2 linked regions of the Homo sapiens genome follow. The protein of the gene in region 1 interacts with the protein of each later gene in a pairwise test. Each region holds a gene or a part of one and is shown in the gene's direction. Other genes may lie near its edges. The genes, in order: ADGRG3 and VSTM1.

The links.
Region 2: the proteins of ADGRG3 (region 1) and VSTM1 interact in binary tests that used the Homo sapiens proteins (3 or more experiments, as listed by UniProt).

Annotation. Positions count from the first base shown.
Region 1 is NC_000016.10:57,662,445-57,671,305, forward strand, and holds the start of ADGRG3 (adhesion G protein-coupled receptor G3 isoform 1 precursor), read left to right. Parts: upstream 1-5,861; 5' UTR 5,862-5,903; coding exon 5,904-5,961; intron 5,962-8,861. Other genes in the region: ADGRG1 (adhesion G-protein coupled receptor G1), read left to right, coding at 1,008-1,138. UniProt on the Homo sapiens protein: Adhesion G-protein coupled receptor (aGPCR) for glucocorticoid hormones such as cortisol, cortisone and 11-deoxycortisol.
Region 2 is NC_000019.10:54,039,763-54,048,026, reverse strand, and holds the end of VSTM1 (V-set and transmembrane domain-containing protein 1 isoform 1 precursor), read left to right. Parts: intron 1-5,469; coding exon of another isoform or gene 5,470-5,537; intron 5,538-5,657; coding exon 5,658-5,750; coding exon of another isoform or gene 5,751-5,800; intron 5,801-5,830; coding exon 5,831-5,858; intron 5,859-6,073; coding exon 6,074-6,111; intron 6,112-6,210; coding exon 6,211-6,248; intron 6,249-6,946; coding exon 6,947-7,066; 3' UTR 7,067-7,202; downstream 7,203-8,264.

The DNA of each region.
Region 1 (8,861 bases):
AGACCAGCAGCAGCAGCGTTGTTAGGAGCTTTTTGGAAACGCAGCCTCTGGGCCACCCGGGCCCTGCCACATCAGAATCTGCATTTTCACAAATGCCCAAGGGGTCACGTGCACATGATAGGATCAGGAGCCCTGGTCTAGGGGAAGGAAGCTCCAGGCAGAGGGAGAGGCAAGAACAAAGATCCTGAGGTTGGAACCGGTTGTGTGTAGGAAGGACAGTGAGGGAGAGCGTGGCCAGATGGCGGCGGGTCGGGGCGGAGAGGTGGGATCCCAGGGCAGGGTCATGATGGCTCTGGCTTGATGCCAACAGGGTCCCTTTCTGTGCATGTACCTGTGTGTGTACATTGAGGTGCACACACAGGCATGCACACCCCTCTGTTCCTGGCCGTGCAGAATGGAAGGGGGTTGTATGGCCAGGCCCAGGGGCTCTCATGGGGTTCAAGGCCAGCCTCCCATACAGGGTCACCCTAGAATGGGAGCTGGGAGTTGGTGGTGGGGAGATGTTACCACATTTCGGTTATTTAACATTCAAGCCTTCATTCCTGCCTGTGAGATGAGGGGACTCAGGATTGTAAGTGAGGCCCATACATTCACACAGACATTTACTAAGCTGTGGATACATCATAGTGCTATTAATTTGAGGGGTGCAAAATCTCACAGTGCTTAAGTGGGTGGACTTCAGAGCCTGTTCACCACAGTTTGAGCCCTGGCTCAGCCACGTCCCTTTACCTGAGCCTCCTGGGCCTCAGTTTCCTTGTTTACAAAAGAGAATAGTAATGAATAGGATGGGCCTAGGAAGTTTGTGACAGTGAGAGGCCACACGGGGACGCAGCACAGTGCCCGGCTCATAGGAGGTGCTCGCTGGGTCTCATGGGTGCCCGACAGCACGTGCTTGGCAAACACTATGGAGAGGTGGGGCAGACCCGAGTCACAATGGCTGGGGAGGGAGGAGGAGGGATGGGGTGGGGCTCCCCCACCTGCTGACCCCGTGCCCTCACTGCCCGCAGGCTTCCTCATCTTCATCTGGTACTGGTCCATGCGGCTGCAGGCCCGGGGTGGCCCCTCCCCTCTGAAGAGCAACTCAGACAGCGCCAGGCTCCCCATCAGCTCGGGCAGCACCTCGTCCAGCCGCATCTAGGCCTCCAGCCCACCTGCCCATGTGATGAAGCAGAGATTCGGCCTCGTCGCACACTGCCTGTGGCCCCCGAGCCCGGCCCAGCCCCAGGCCAGTCAGCCGCAGACTTTGGAAAGCCCAACGACCATGGAGAGATGGGCCGTTGCCATGGTGGACGGACTCCCGGGCTGGGCTTTTGAATTGGCCTTGGGGACTACTCGGCTCTCACTCAGCTCCCACGGGACTCAGAAGTGCGCCGCCATGCTGCCTAGGGTACTGTCCCCACATCTGTCCCAACCCAGCTGGAGGCCTGGTCTCTCCTTACAACCCCTGGGCCCAGCCCTCATTGCTGGGGGCCAGGCCTTGGATCTTGAGGGTCTGGCACATCCTTAATCCTGTGCCCCTGCCTGGGACAGAAATGTGGCTCCAGTTGCTCTGTCTCTCGTGGTCACCCTGAGGGCACTCTGCATCCTCTGTCATTTTAACCTCAGGTGGCACCCAGGGCGAATGGGGCCCAGGGCAGACCTTCAGGGCCAGAGCCCTGGCGGAGGAGAGGCCCTTTGCCAGGAGCACAGCAGCAGCTCGCCTACCTCTGAGCCCAGGCCCCCTCCCTCCCTCAGCCCCCCAGTCCTCCCTCCATCTTCCCTGGGGTTCTCCTCCTCTCCCAGGGCCTCCTTGCTCCTTCGTTCACAGCTGGGGGTCCCCGATTCCAATGCTGTTTTTTGGGGAGTGGTTTCCAGGAGCTGCCTGGTGTCTGCTGTAAATGTTTGTCTACTGCACAAGCCTCGGCCTGCCCCTGAGCCAGGCTCGGTACCGATGCGTGGGCTGGGCTAGGTCCCTCTGTCCATCTGGGCCTTTGTATGAGCTGCATTGCCCTTGCTCACCCTGACCAAGCACACGCCTCAGAGGGGCCCTCAGCCTCTCCTGAAGCCCTCTTGTGGCAAGAACTGTGGACCATGCCAGTCCCGTCTGGTTTCCATCCCACCACTCCAAGGACTGAGACTGACCTCCTCTGGTGACACTGGCCTAGGGCCTGACACTCTCCTAAGAGGTTCTCTCCAAGCCCCCAAATAGCTCCAGGCGCCCTCGGCCGCCCATCATGGTTAATTCTGTCCAACAAACACACACGGGTAGATTGCTGGCCTGTTGTAGGTGGTAGGGACACAGATGACCGACCTGGTCACTCCTCCTGCCAACATTCAGTCTGGTATGTGAGGCGTGCGTGAAGCAAGAACTCCTGGAGCTACAGGGACAGGGAGCCATCATTCCTGCCTGGGAATCCTGGAAGACTTCCTGCAGGAGTCAGCGTTCAATCTTGACCTTGAAGATGGGAAGGATGTTCTTTTTACGTACCAATTCTTTTGTCTTTTGATATTAAAAAGAAGTACATGTTCATTGTAGAGAATTTGGAAACTGTAGAAGAGAATCAAGAAGAAAAATAAAAATCAGCTGTTGTAATCACCTAGCAAACTGGCGTAAGCATTTTGGGTCATTTCCTTCTGAGCTTTTTCCTGTGCTTCTATTGAAAGAGTCACTGATACTAATACAAATACCTTGGGGCCAATCAGGAAACATGAAAGAGAGAAGAGGGCTGTGTGTGAAGAAAAAAAAAAAATCGACTGCTGGAAACCTCATCAACCAGGGCACAGGGGAAGATAAATGGCAACTTGGTGTCTGTGCTGGGGAGGCAATGGGGAGTGGTGGGGCCTGTGGCGAACTGGAGACTCCCAACCCCATGCTGAGAGCGTGGCTGCTCATCAGCTCCAGCTGGTCACTACCTTGCAGGGATGAGGGCCCATGTAGCCAGACCACCTGCCTTTTATGAGAAATGGGAAATCCAGACTGTGGTTTGACATCCCCTGATTTTAAAATTTTGGCGAATCCAAAACATTTTCTGGCCAAAGAGATTACAGTCAAAAGCTGCCTGGTCCTGGGATTTATGCAACCAGTTTACTGATCACTCTGCAGCAGGTGGGCTGCAAGAATTAAATCACTGGACTTCTCTCCCATCCCTGCCTTTAACCTTGTTCCACCAAATCAATCTCTCCTCCCGCTCCTAAGGCCCAGGTGAGGCAGATCACGCAGGTTCCCATCTTCCCTGTGATGAGGGCAGTCACAACGGATCATTGCTACTGTGTTCAGGTAAGAGGTCCCAGTGCAGCCAAAGTCCTCCCCAAGGCCCACAGTCCACTCTCTCCCTTCTGCAGGCTCCTCCCTCCTCCCCTGGCCACTCTAGGGGGATGCCCAGCAGGGGAAGAGGCTCAGAGTCTTGGATTGGACAAGGTGGGTGTGAGGCAGCTGGGTCTAGACTGGCAGTGCCCTCTGAGGGGCGTGAATGTGGGATCTTGGGACCTGCAGGGACCAAGAACCCCTGTGCCCTGCTGCTCTCCCAGCCCTCCCTCCACCCCCTCCACTCCCTCCACTGACCTCTGTCCCCACCTTTCTGCAGGTGGGGGGCTCCTCTTATGCCCCCAGCTCCAAAGGACAGAGGCCAAACCTTCCCAAGCCTCCCCTACCCCAGTGTCCGGATTGGGCAGCCCCGGGGGATCAAAGCCAGCTTCCCTCCTTACAGGCTTCTAGGTCTCCGTGAGGGGGGTCTCTCAGAGCCCCATGGCTGGGCTAGGTCCTGGGATGGGGGTTGAGGCAACTCCCCCCATCTTCCAGAATGGGGGGGAAATGACCCAGCCCCGTTCCTCCGCAATTCTCCTGCTTCTCAAACATTTTGTTTCTGCATCTGAGGCTGGCTCAGGTAGTGGGGAGGGGTCTTGGGTTGGGTCTCACCTTCTCAGGTAGGCCCTGCACAGGGCACCAACAGTTCCATGCTGATCCTTTTACCCCGATGGTTATTATCATGCACTTTCCCAGGCTGTGGGGCTTTGGACAGTGGGATCGCCCTTTCTGCCAGCATGTGGCCAGGCGTGCATCTGGAAACATCCCTTTAGCTTGGGAAATGGATTGGAGCAGCTGAGGGCTGAATGCTGGCTGGGTCTCGCTGGAGGACTTGAGGCCCTGCCCACTGGAGCCATTGGGAGAAGCTGGGGCAGGAGGCGGCAGGAAGGGACACTACTGTTTTGTTGGCCCTGGGGTTGGGGGGGGTCTCAGGGTTCTGTGAGTGGCTCCAGGCTAGTCCCTGGTCCCCAGGGGGCGTTTCAGGGAAGGGGCCTTAGGAAAAGGTGGCCCTCCTTCCAGCCCTGCCTGACCTTCCCCTGCACCTGCCCTCTGCCCACTTCCCAGGTGGGCTGGCTGCTCGGAATCTCAGTCTGCTCACCCCCAGGCGCTTCTTCACACACTGGTACCTGCGAGCCTCTCTGAGGGCCCAGGTGCCAGGATGGGGCTTCAGCGATGGGCCCAGCACATCCAAGTCCACTGCCCCACCTCACCCTCACCTGCAGCTGGGAGGGAGGTCTGCAGATCTTCCAGGAGAAGGCTGGCCAGGTGTGGAGCAGTGGCAGGCCCAGCCATTCATCTGCCTTCGCAGCCCTCCCTGCAGAGGAAGTTTCTGGGGCTCAGGAAGCCCTGGGCTCTGACCTGCTGCTCCATGCTGAATTCCCACCTGCTCCCACACCATGAGTGACCCTGACATCCCCTCCCTACCCCTTCCCAGACCCAGAGGGCTCAGCAGGAGACACTGAGTGGGAGGAGGAGGAAATGGAGGCCAGCAGGGGCTGAGCGGCTCCCCAGTTCAATCCCAAGGCTGAGTAGGGCTAGTGCCAGCCCCGTGGGCCAGAGGGGGATGCCAGCAACCACACACCTTGGTGGGATGCCCTTCACCTTCCAATTGCCAAGTGGCCATGGCCTCATGCACAGTGCATCCGTGGGGCCTCCAGAGTTGGCCCGAGTGGCTGGCGCCCTAATTCCTTTAGGCTGAAGCCCAGGAGTGTTTGCCACCCCCACCTCCCACCTGATCAGTGACCATTTGGGGTGTAAAGACAACAATTTCACAGCTCTGATGATCAGAAATGATGTAATGGCCACAGGCGGCTCCGCCTGCGTCATCCATGATTTCATCACACACCTCGGGAGGCTCAGGGTGACAGACAGTGCATGCAAGGTCACCCGGCCAGGAAGTGGCCAGGATGGATGTTAGCTCAGGCCTGACCAGCCCCCGGGGCCGCACTGCTGTCTTCCCGCTACCCTGCCTCTGGGTCCGTCCTGTTATCCAGGCTGGTGGGGGAAGCTCAGGCTGCAGGGCCAGCTCCTGCTCTCCTCCCACACCCTCCAGCCTGGTTCAAGCCATAGGCACCATCTGGGTCTTCGTCCTCATGCCCAGAGCCAGGCTCTGTGCCCAGCTTGTTGCAGGTCTCATCAAACCCTGACACAGCCTTAGGAGGCAGCCCCATTGCCATCTTCACTTTACAGAGGAGGAAACTGAGGCTCAGAGAGGCTCCCAGCTTGTGAGAGGAGGGGTCTGAGTAGGTGCGCCTGACTCCAAAGCCTGTGCTCACCACAGTTCCCAGGGATCCGCTCTGAGCCAGGCCCCTGTGGCCACCCAGCCCCTAGCCCCGTAGATCCCACCCCAGTGGGGCCCCGGGGGCACATACCTGGGTGGGCTCAGCAGCTCCCTCTGCAGGTGGACCCAGGGTGCGGTGAGACTGGGAGCACTGCCCAGTTCCCCACACTCACCTTTCACAACCCAACCAATGGCGCCATCGAGCAGGAAGGGTGAGAAAGAGGACACAGGAAGCCAGAGTGGTGGGGCTGCAGGGTGGGGGCAGGCCAGCTCAGCAGAGCCTGGGGCCAGAGGGCCAGACAGCCACAGAGCTCCTGGCGTGGGCAAGGCTGGCCAAGGATGGCGACGCCCAGGGGCCTGGGGGCCCTGCTCCTGCTCCTCCTGCTCCCGACCTCAGGTGAGTGGCTGGCACCTCATCCCCTCCTGCCACGCTGGGCCGACCCTGCCCTGCCGAGGGAGGGATCCAGGGACAGACGCAGGGACTGGAGAAGGTGAGGAGTTGGGGTGTCTGGGATGTGTCCTCCGATACCCCCCGTGGCCGCCTCAGCACCTTCTCTAGCCCTGTCCCTTTGGGTCAGTCCTGTCCTTCCACTAAACCTTGCTCAGGACTGGTCTCAGGTTCCCTTTGTTGCTCCACAGTGCCCTGGAGATAGGGGAGGTCGGAGGGTGCTCCCTGACTCCCCAACCTGGGCTGTGTCTCCCTGACAGGCCTGGCTCTGAGACAGGGGTTGGCCCCGGGCAGGCAATTCTCCAGCTGGCTTGTGAGATCCTGGGGACGGGATTCAGACACTCTGGAAGCTGAGGCCAGGAAGGTCTGTCACCTCGTTCTTCTGGACCTCTCCTCCCGCACATGTCACCCCACACCGGCTCCCTCTCCCAGTCTCAGCCACAACCTCTTGGTCCTCAGTGGCCTGAGCCAGGATCCACACTCCTCCCCGTCACTCTCCCGTCTCACACACAAACACATGGTGCGTCTCCAGAGGCCATGGAAGTGCCCGGGCCTTGCCTTTGCTGGCCTCTCTCCCAGGAAAGCTGTCCCCCTACCCCTTGCCCACTTAGCCAGCTCCATTTACCCTTCTTGGCCTCTGTGGCGTCTTAGCAACCCTCTCGGACAGAGGGAGGTGCTCCCCCGTTAGTGCTCCCTCCTCAGTGCTCCTGTCTCAGGGCCTTGCAGGCCACTCTCTTTTTGCTCCTGACTCGGTGAGGGGCCTGCATGTCCATCTCCCTGTGTGTCCAGCGTGTGGTCGCGTGACTTTGGCCACATAGATCAACTTATTTGGTCTTCAAATAACCCTCTTCTTTTCAAACATTGGAAGATTCAGTGGAGTGAATCAGTCCCTGGCTCAAAAAAGGGTGGGAGATGACAGCACTGTCCTCCTAGTGGCCCCGGGAGGCCCTGGTACAGAGCAGGCCACCAGGCAGCCCTTGATAGATGAATGAACGGAGCCACCGATGGCAGCTGTGACCAGGGCTCATGGGCGTCCTCAGGTCCCAGCTGTCATCGCTGGTTGGGCCTTCAAGCCTCCTCCAGGTGATGCTGTTTCCCCCATGGTGATGTGGGTGCTCTGGTTGGGGCAGAGCAGCAGCCATTTGATTGAGCAAGGAGCTCTGAGAGGTCTACACACAGGAAGGTCTGCACACTTCCTGTGTGGACAGTGATGTGTTAGTCTCCATTCTCCATTTGCGCATTCATTCATTCATTCATTCATTCAGGAAGCATCGATGGTGCCCTCTGCTCCTGCTGGTACCACTTGGCCCCTGCCCTCAAAAGGCTCACAGTCTGCAGGAGTGACACAGTGTGGTGGGGGCTCGCATGTGAGACCCAGCTGTTAGGGCTGAGCAAGGGGTGGATGCAATGGAGGGCCTGGCATGAAGGGACACGTGACAAAGGTGCGGGCAGGGCACGGGGAGCAAGGAGGGTGGTCACTGGGCAGGCTGGCACCTGGGGCAGCCTTCAGCACCGTGAGGTCTAAAGGGGCCAGGAGGGAGTGGCCCCCTGGGCTTCTACAGCCAGACTGTGGCTACAGGAGGGAAATGGCGGTGGTTTGCTCACGGTGAGCCAGCAGGGGCTGAAGGAGCCATGCGGGGTGGGGGCAAATGCCCACTCTGCCCTCCTCCTGCCCTCTGACCTCCAGTCCACTTTCCACTTGCTGACCCCCAAATGAGGCAGTCCATGGAGGCCAGGCTCTGGAGCATAGAGGGTCTGGAGAGGAGGGGAGTGCTATCCCACCCACAGGCCTAGCACAGGGTCTCCTTGTCTACATGAAATGCTTGCAGTGTCTTCAAAGAATAAACACAGAAAAGATATTTAATGATCCTGTCTGTGTAGGGTGCTTGCCAAGAGCTTCACTTACATGCCTGCGCTGAAATTCATGGCAATCCGGGAGGGAGGCCTGCACCTGGACCCATTCATGACAGCAGGGCCGGGATGGCAGAGAATGGCACCCGTCCTCAAGCTGACAATGTTATCTCCCCTCCTCTCCTGTCCTCTTCCTTCCCCTCTCAACCCCTCCTCCCCTCTCCTCTCTTCCCTCTCCCTGTTTCTGTCTTCTTCCTCCTCTCCCTCTTCTCCCCTTTTTTAAAAAGCCAACATAGATCATACTATATTCATGCTCATCTATCATTTTCATTTCCCATTAAACAATGCATCATAAATATCTTTATAAACTAACAGAAATTTACAGTTCCTTTATAAACTATCTAAAACGAATTATCACATATAGAGTCCATTATTACAAAATCCCCTCTAAAATGTTATTTTTTTACCCTGCTGTTACTCTTTATTCAGCCATTATTTTTATCATGTCTTTTTTGTCTTAATGATTAAAAATGAACAGTTTTTTAAAAAATGTGACAGTAATACTGGACATGATTTTTAAAAAATCAAATACCAGGGAGGGAAATAAAAAATGGAAAGCAGATGAGCCCCTGCCCGCCTCAGCCCCCAGCACCACCCATCGCAGAGGGAGCTCTCCTAACACTTCCTGGGGGTGGCAATCCGAAAAGTGACAATGCAGAGCCAAGACCCACTTCCCACCCTCAAAGGGAGAAGGATACAACAAAGCACTTCAGAGTAAAAGACATAAAAGTGGCCGCAGATATACAGGTAGATGCTCAAACTCCTTAAATGGAAATAAGATTCAATGTCATCCCTCAGACTAGCAAAAATCCAAAAGTTCAGTAAGCTATAGAATAATAGGCATGTGGATAGTCACTCTTATCCACTTTGAGTGAGAGTATAAATAGGTACACCATTTTCTGGAGGGAAATTCAATAATACCCGGCAGTTTTTTAAAG
Region 2 (8,264 bases), on another chromosome or scaffold:
CAATGTAGAGAATGAAGATGAATTTTATCACACAAGACTTGACTTTCTTTCTGGTGCCTGTGCCTCCATTTATGCCCCGTGTCAGGCTGTATCTTGTTGCTCACGCTGACTTTAGTAGCGTAGCAAGTTATGATTTATTCTGGCAATTTGCAAATACTGATGCAACATTTGGCCAGGATCTGTGGACATCTCAGGGTGAACCCAGTTCAGCTGATTATGGGGTCATATGAAGATGAGAATTTTGCAATAATGTACTTCTCATTTCTAGTGAATTGCTGTGTGAAAGATACCGTAGGCTGGAAAAGGGGAGAACAGAAAGGACAAGGCAAGGCTGCTGTTTCTCTGCTTCCATCTGGGGAAACTGAGAGTCCAGGAGCAGCTGTTCCTGCCCTGTTTTCATAAGTCCTTGGAGATGCACTGATAGAATTGTTGCTTATGGCCAGGCATGGTGGCTTATGTAATCCCAGCACTTTGGGAGGCCAAAGTGGGCAGAACACTTGAGCTCTGGAGTTTGAGACCAGCCTAACCAACATGGTGAAACCTCATCTCTACTAGAAATATAAAAAATTAGCGGGGTGAGGTGGCGGGTGCTTGTAATCCCAGCTCCTTGGGAGGCTGAGGCAGGAGAATTGCTTGAACCCCAGAGGGGGAGGTTCCAAAGCCGAGATTGTACCACTGCACTCCAGCCTGGGAGACAGAGTGAGACTGTCTCAAAAAAAAAAAAATTGTTGCTTTTGAGGGGTTCTCTGATTCAGCTCCACCAGAAGCAGGCTCTTAGACAGCATTAGTGTGAAAGTGACGTTTTATTTTATTTATTATTTATTTAGTTTTGAGACAGAGTTTCGCTCTTGTTGCCCAGGCTGGAGTGCAATGGCGTGATCTTGGCTCACTGCAACCTCCGCCTACCAGGTTCAAGAGATTCTCCTGCCTCAGCCTCCCAAATAGCTGGGATTACAGGCATGCACCACCACACCCAGCTAATATTCTATTTTTAGTAGAGACGGGGTTTCTCCATGTTGGTCAGGCTGGTCTCGAACTCCTGACCTCAGGTGCTCTGCCTGCCTCGACCTCCCAAAGTGCTGGGATTACAGGTGTGAGCCACCACGCCTGGCTTGAAAATTACATTTTAGGGAGTGGGGAAGAAGGGCTGGGAGGAAAATAGATTAAACAAGTGTGGGATATCTGTGTCCCTCAGATGGTATCTTTGGCTCCATCCTGCAGAAAGCAGTGGAGACAGAGAAGGTCGAAGACCAGAGGCTAGGGAGCTGGGGTCCCCACAGCCGTCAGTGGCAGTTTGTCCCGGGCATGTAAATTCCAAGGCATTTGGAGTTCTCCCAGGCAGTCCCCCAAAGAAGAGATACAAATGTTCACTTTGGAAAGGGAAAGAAGCCACGATCTAGAATGCATAAAAATGGGAAAGGGATCTGGGGAACATGGGTTGAGGAACATTGACAGAATCTATTACAGAGAGAGATGGGTGTAGGTGGAATATTGGGTGAAAAAAAATCATCATTATACCTACAATCCCATTATCCGACACAATGAGTCAGTTTCTAGACTGAGCGCTTTAAAGCCAGGATTTTTCATCATTACCTAACTCTTCAAGTTAGATATTATTAGCTCTCTGCCCCCTCCTTATATTTAACCAAAAAATAACGTATTCCAGAAAGGGAAGGGAACATTTACAAAGTCAGGAGGTAGGAGACCCAGTACTAGAACTCAAATATGTCTTGTTTCAAACTCCCCACTCCTTTTGCTGCTCCCTGATGATCAGCTCAGAAAGAACCTTATTTCAGGGAGGGGGATAGATAGATAATTAGATGTGATAGATAATAGGCAAGTAGGCAGATAAATAGATAACTAGATATGATAGATTAGATAGATACATAGATGATAGGTAGATAAGTAGCTAGATACGATGGACAGATTAGATAGATAGACAGATGATAGGTAAGTAGGTAGATAGATAACTAGATACAACAGGTTAGATAAGTAAGTAGATAGATAACTAGATATGATAGATTAGATAGATAAATAGACGATAGGTAAGTAGGTAGATAGATACAGATAGATTAGCTAGCTAGCTAGATGATAGATAACTAGATATAATAGATAAGATAGATGATTAGATAGACAGATAATTAGATATGATTGATAGATACATTAGATAGATGATAGATTAGATAGATAGATGATAGGTAACTAGGTAGCTAGATAAAGCTAGCTAGATAGATAGATAGATATACAGATACACAGATAGATACATAGATACCTAGATAGGTGATAGAGTTGCAAGATAGAAAAATTAGATAAGTAGGTGGATAGATAGATAGATAACTAGATAGAATAGATTAAATAGATAATAGTAGGTGAATAGACAGATACATACAGATGATAGATGATAGATGATAGATAACTGGTTATGATTGATAGATACATTAGATAGATGATAGATTTGGTAACTAGATGATAGGTAAGTCGGTAGATAGATAAGTGATAATTAGATATGATAGGATGGATAGATTAGACAGACAGCAGGTAAGCAGGTGGATAGACAGATAAAGATAGATACATAGATGCCTAGATAAGTGATAGATTAACAAGATAGAAAAATTAGACAGACAGATAGTTAATTACATATGATAGGATAGATAGATTGGATAGGTGATAGGCAAGTAGGTAGATAGATAAATCATAATTAGATAGGACGGATAGATTGGATAGATGATAGGTAAGTAGGTACAGAGACAGATAAAGATAGATAGGTAGATAGATAATAGATACCTAGACAGATGGTAGATAGATTAGCGAGATAGATAAATTAGATAGGTAATTCTCTATATATAGATATGTAGAAATGCCAATGCAAACATAGCGAACCAAGTAGGGGAAGCGTCTGGATGGGAGACCCTCTGTTGGTGCAGAGGACCAGGCGTGTGAAGCATCTCAGACTTGGCTCTGTAATGTGACCACAGATCATTGCACACCTAGGAAAAATTCTCAGACTCAAAGCACACTAACAAAGATAGCGGGGGTCTTGGTGAAGCCCCTTTCTGGGGCCTCACTTCTATAGTTGCTCAACTTTTTTCCTTAATCACGTTTCTGCTACTTACTCCTTAAAGTCTCACGACTTGTGTTTCTTGAATCTAAAGTGCCAAGAAAAACAAAAAACGGGGGGGAACTGCATGGACTCTGTCGCCTAGCTTTAGTAACAGGTTGCTCTCTCTTCCTCAACGCTGTGAGCTTTGGACACAACCCTTGCTGTAATCCCAGGAGTCACACGGGAATGCATGCCCTTCACCAGTGGGAGGGAAATAATTGTACTACCTTGCAGGGTTGTTGTTAAGACTTTAAAACGCTATGATGTAGACTTGCATGGCAATATTGCTCAAGAACTAGTTTTTTTTGTTTTGTTTTGTTTTTGTTTTTTAATTGGTAGAAATTTTATCTCCTGAGAGGGATGCTTTTTTGAGTTGGAGTCTTGGTCAGTTGAGTGTATGATGCAGTGATGCGATCTCGGCTCACTGCAACCTCCGCCTCCCAGGTTCAAGCAATTCTCTTCTCTCAGCCTCCTGAGTAGCTGGGACTACAGGCGTGCGCCACCATGCCCAGCTTATTTTTTATATTTTCAGTAGAGACAGGGTTTCACCATGTTGGCCAGGCTGGTCTCGAACTCCAGACCTCAAGTGATCCACCTACTTCACTCTCCCAAAGTGCCAGGATTACAGGCGTGAGCCACCGTGCCCGGCCACTGGTCATTCTTTTCTACCCTGCTCTAACCCTGTTCTTATTAGGAATCCTCCCTGAATTCTCCCAGCTGATCCCTTGTTCTGTGTCTTGGGGAATCATGTCTCCTTCAGAGAGCCCCACCCCTCCCCACTCTAAACGCCTTCCATGCCCGTGTCACTGCTGTTCATTACCTGGCATCAACGAGCTCATTGAAGTGTGTTTGAAGTTGGCTGGGCGTGGTGGTCTGTACTCCCAGCTACCCTGGAGGCCGAGTGAGGAGGACCACTTGAGCCCAGGAATTCGAGTATGATCACACCACTGCACTCTAGCCTGGGCAACAATGGGAACCCATTGGCACATCTGGGATTGGCATCCTGAGCTCCCATCTGTGACCTCCCTCCTCTCCCCTCCTCTCCCCTCCATTGCCCTCACCCTCTCCCCATAATCTTCACATCCCGTCCTTTCACATCTCTCTCTCTCCTTTAAAAAAAGAAAAAGGAAATATGTTTGAAGTTAAGAGCTGAGATCATGTCTGTGTTAGCCAGGGTTTTCCAGAAAAACAGAACCAATAGAACATATAGATATAAGCTGGGTGTGGTGGCTCACGCCTGTAATCCCAGCACTTTGGGAGGCCGAGGCAGGCAGATTGCCTGAGGTCAGTAGTTCAAGACCAGCGTGGCCAACATGGCGAAACCCCGTCTCTACTAAAAATACAAAAATTAGCCGGGCGTGATGGTGGGCACCTGTAATCCCAGCTACTCAGGAGGCTAAGGCAGGAGAATTGCTTGAACCCGGGAGGCGGAGCTTGCAGTGAGCCAAGATTGCACTATTGCACTCCAGCCTGGACGATAAGAGTGAGACTTTGTCTCAAAAAAAAAAAAGAGAACATATACATGTATATACATATATGGAGAGAGAGATTGATTTTAATGGATTGGTTCACGTGATTGTGGGGAGCTGGCAAGTCTGAAATCTGCAGGGCAGGCAGGCAGGGGATCCAGGGGAGACTTGATATTGCAGCTTGAGTCTGGAGGCAGAATTCCTTCCACCTTGGGGGACCTCAGTCTTTTCTCTTAAAGTCTTAAAGTCTTCAACTGATTGGATGAGGCCCACCCCTATGACAGTGGGTCATCTGCTTTACTCAAAGTCTATTGGTCGAAATGTCCAGCTCCAAGGAAGTTCCAGCTCCAAGGTGGGAGATCCAGGCTTGGAAGCCAGGCCATCTGTCTGGCTTCTCTTAGCTTTTCTACTCACCCCATCAGTGGATTTCAGACAGTGATTACACAGACAGATGTGGTGGCTCACGCCTGTAATCCCAACTACTCAGGAGGCTGAGTCAGGAGAATTGTTTGAACCAGGGAGGTGGAGGTTGCAGTGAGCCAGGATCACACTCCAGCCTGGGTGACAGAACACGACTCCATCTCAAAAAAAAAAAAGTGTGTATATATATATATATATGTATATATATATATATATATATATATATATATACACATTTATATATACACACACATATATATACATTTATATATATATATACACACACACACACGTATATATATATATGGAGCACCTGGAACAGAGCTGGCTCACAATAAATGATCAATATCATTGCTATGCACCAAACATTCCCTGGGAATTTTTGGAATTTCCTATGCGCCAAGCACTGTTCCAGCCCTTTCTATAGGTACTGACCCACCATCCAATAAAGTAGCTACTGCTGCTATCCTCACTTTACAGATGGGGAAACAGAAGCTTGGAGAAGATTAAGGAAATTCCCCAAAGCAATAGGAAGTTCCAGCTCCGAGGTGGGAGATCCAGGCTTGGAAGCCAGGCCATCTGTCTGGCTTCTCTTAGCTTTTCGGCTCGCCCCTATCAGTGGATTTCAGGAGCCAGGCTGATTCCCTGACCTGCTCTTCCCCCTCCAGACACCAGAACCATCTTTGTCGCCATCTTCAGCTGCATCTCCATCCTTCTCCTCTTCCTCTCAGTCTTCATCATCTACAGATGCAGCCAGCACAGTGAGCTCAGAGAACGCAAAGGGAGAGAGGGGGAGTGAAGGATTTTCTCGGTAGGTAAATTCCTCCTGCATTTTTTGTAGGTTCATCATCTGAGGAATCCACCAAGAGGTAGATGCTTGGCATAGCTCATGCTCCACTTATTCCCATGTCATTCTCAAGGGAACCCATTGGCACATCCGGGATTGGCACCCTGAGCCCCCACCCCAGCCCATTCTGTGACCTTCCTCCTCTCCCTTCTTCTCCCTTCCTCTCCCCTCCATTGCCCTCACCCTCTCCCCGAAATCTTCACATCCCATCCTTTCACGTGTGTCTCTCTCTTTCAGAACCAGCCATTCCAAACTTCCGGAGCAGGAGGCTGCCGGTAAGGGACAGGGGAAGTTTAAGGGAATCACCGGATAGAAAGACTAAGTTCTGACTTCTGCAGCTGAGAACTGATTTTTTTTTTTCCTTTCTCACTCAGAGGCAGATTTATCCAATATGGAAAGGGTATCTCTCTCGGTGAGTCCTCCCGCTTAGGAGTCCCACAAGAGCTCCCTCACCACAATGGGCTGGTCGTGTGTGCCTCCTGGTTAAGCCCATACAGAAATGTATACTGTTTATCACGCATGTGGTCTTAGACAAGTCACGAAACTCCCCTAATGGGAACCAAAATCTCCATTTAAAAGGCTTATGCATGGGCCGGGCGCGGTGGCTCACGCCTGTAATCCCAGCACTTTGGGAGGCCGAGGCGGGCGGATCATGAGGTCAGGAGATCGAGACCATCCTGGTTAACATGGTGAAACCCCATCTCTACTAAAGATACAAAAAATTAGCTGGGCGTGGTAGTGGGCGCCTGTAATCCCAGCTACTCAGGAGGCTGAGCCAGGAGAATGGCTTGAACCCGGGAGGCGGAGGTTGCAGTGAGCCGAGATCACGCCACCGCACTCCAGCCTGGGCGACAGAGCCAGACTCTGTCCCAAAATAAATAAATAAATAAAAATTTAAAAAAAATGAAAAAAGGCTTACGCAGATCCATTGATGTCACAGGCATAAAGGGTTATAAAAACAGAAAAGAAAAAGAAATGCATCTGGTGTGACCGAGGACCTGGGTTTTAAATTAAATTTAATTGTAATTAACTTAAATGTCAATAGCCATGTGTGGCTAGTGGCTGCCATATTGAACACTCAGTTCTAATATTCATCTATTTTCTCCAAAGACGGCAGACCCCCAAGGAGTGACCTATGCTGAGCTAAGCACCAGCGCCCTGTCTGAGGCAGCTTCAGACACCACCCAGGAGCCCCCAGGATCTCATGAATATGCGGCACTGAAAGTGTAGCAAGAAGACAGCCCTGGCCACTAAAGGAGGGGGGATCGTGCTGGCCAAGGTTATCGGAAATCTGGAGATGCAGATACTGTGTTTCCTTGCTCTTCGTCCATATCAATAAAATTAAGTTTCTCGTCTTAAAAAGAAATCTGACTTATTTATGGATTATTCATGCCCAAGAACCCCACCATACTCTTTCTACCCCACATTTCCTCCTAGAACAATTCAAGGAAATAATAAATAATGATTGACCAGCTATCCAGGAAAGAATGTAAGAATTACTGAGCATCTCCAGGAAGCACAACAAGCAAAAAAGAAAACGGCCGGGCTCACGCCTGTCATCCCAGCACTTTGGGAGGCCGAGGTGGGTGGATCATCTGAGGTCAGAGTTCAAGACCAGCCTGACCAACATGGTGAAATCCCATCTCTACTAAAAATAAAAAATTAGTTGGACGTGGTGGCAGGCGCCTGTAATCCCCGCTACTTGGGAGACTGAGGCAGAAGAATCGCTTGAACCCAGGAGGCAGAGATTGCAGTGAGCTGAGATGGCGCCATTGAATTCCAGCCTGGGCAATGGAGTGAGACTCCATCTCAAAAAAAAAAAAAAAAAAAAACAAAAAACGCCCAGAGCTGCAAACTCCTAGACCAGAGGGCAGAAAACAAAAGGACCAGAGAGTAACACGTCCAGCTTTGTGGGCTGTAGGATCTCTGCTGAGACTACCCCACTCTGCTGTTGTACCATGAAAGCAGCCATCGCTGATATGTAAACAAGTAGGTGTGGCGGTGTTAGAATAAAACTTTATTTACAACTTCATGTTCTCACTCATGTAGGAGCTAAAAAAGTAGATCTCATGAAGGTAAAGAGAGAGTCAGTTATCAAAGGCTAGAAGGGGTGGGATAGTTAATGGGCACAAACACAGTTGGATAGAAGGAATAAGTTCAAGTGTTCAATAGCACAGAAGGGTGACTATAGTTAACAGCAATATATTGTATATTTCAAAATAGCTAGAAGAGAAGATTTGAAACATTCCCAACACAAACGATAAATGAGCCAGGTGCAGTGGCTCACTCCTGTAATCCCAACACTTTGAGAGGCCAAGATGGGTGGATCACCTGAGGTCAGGAGTTCAAGACCAGCCTGGCCAACAAGGTGAAACCCCATCTCCACTAAAAATACAAAAATTAGCTGGGTGTGGTGGCGCACACCTGT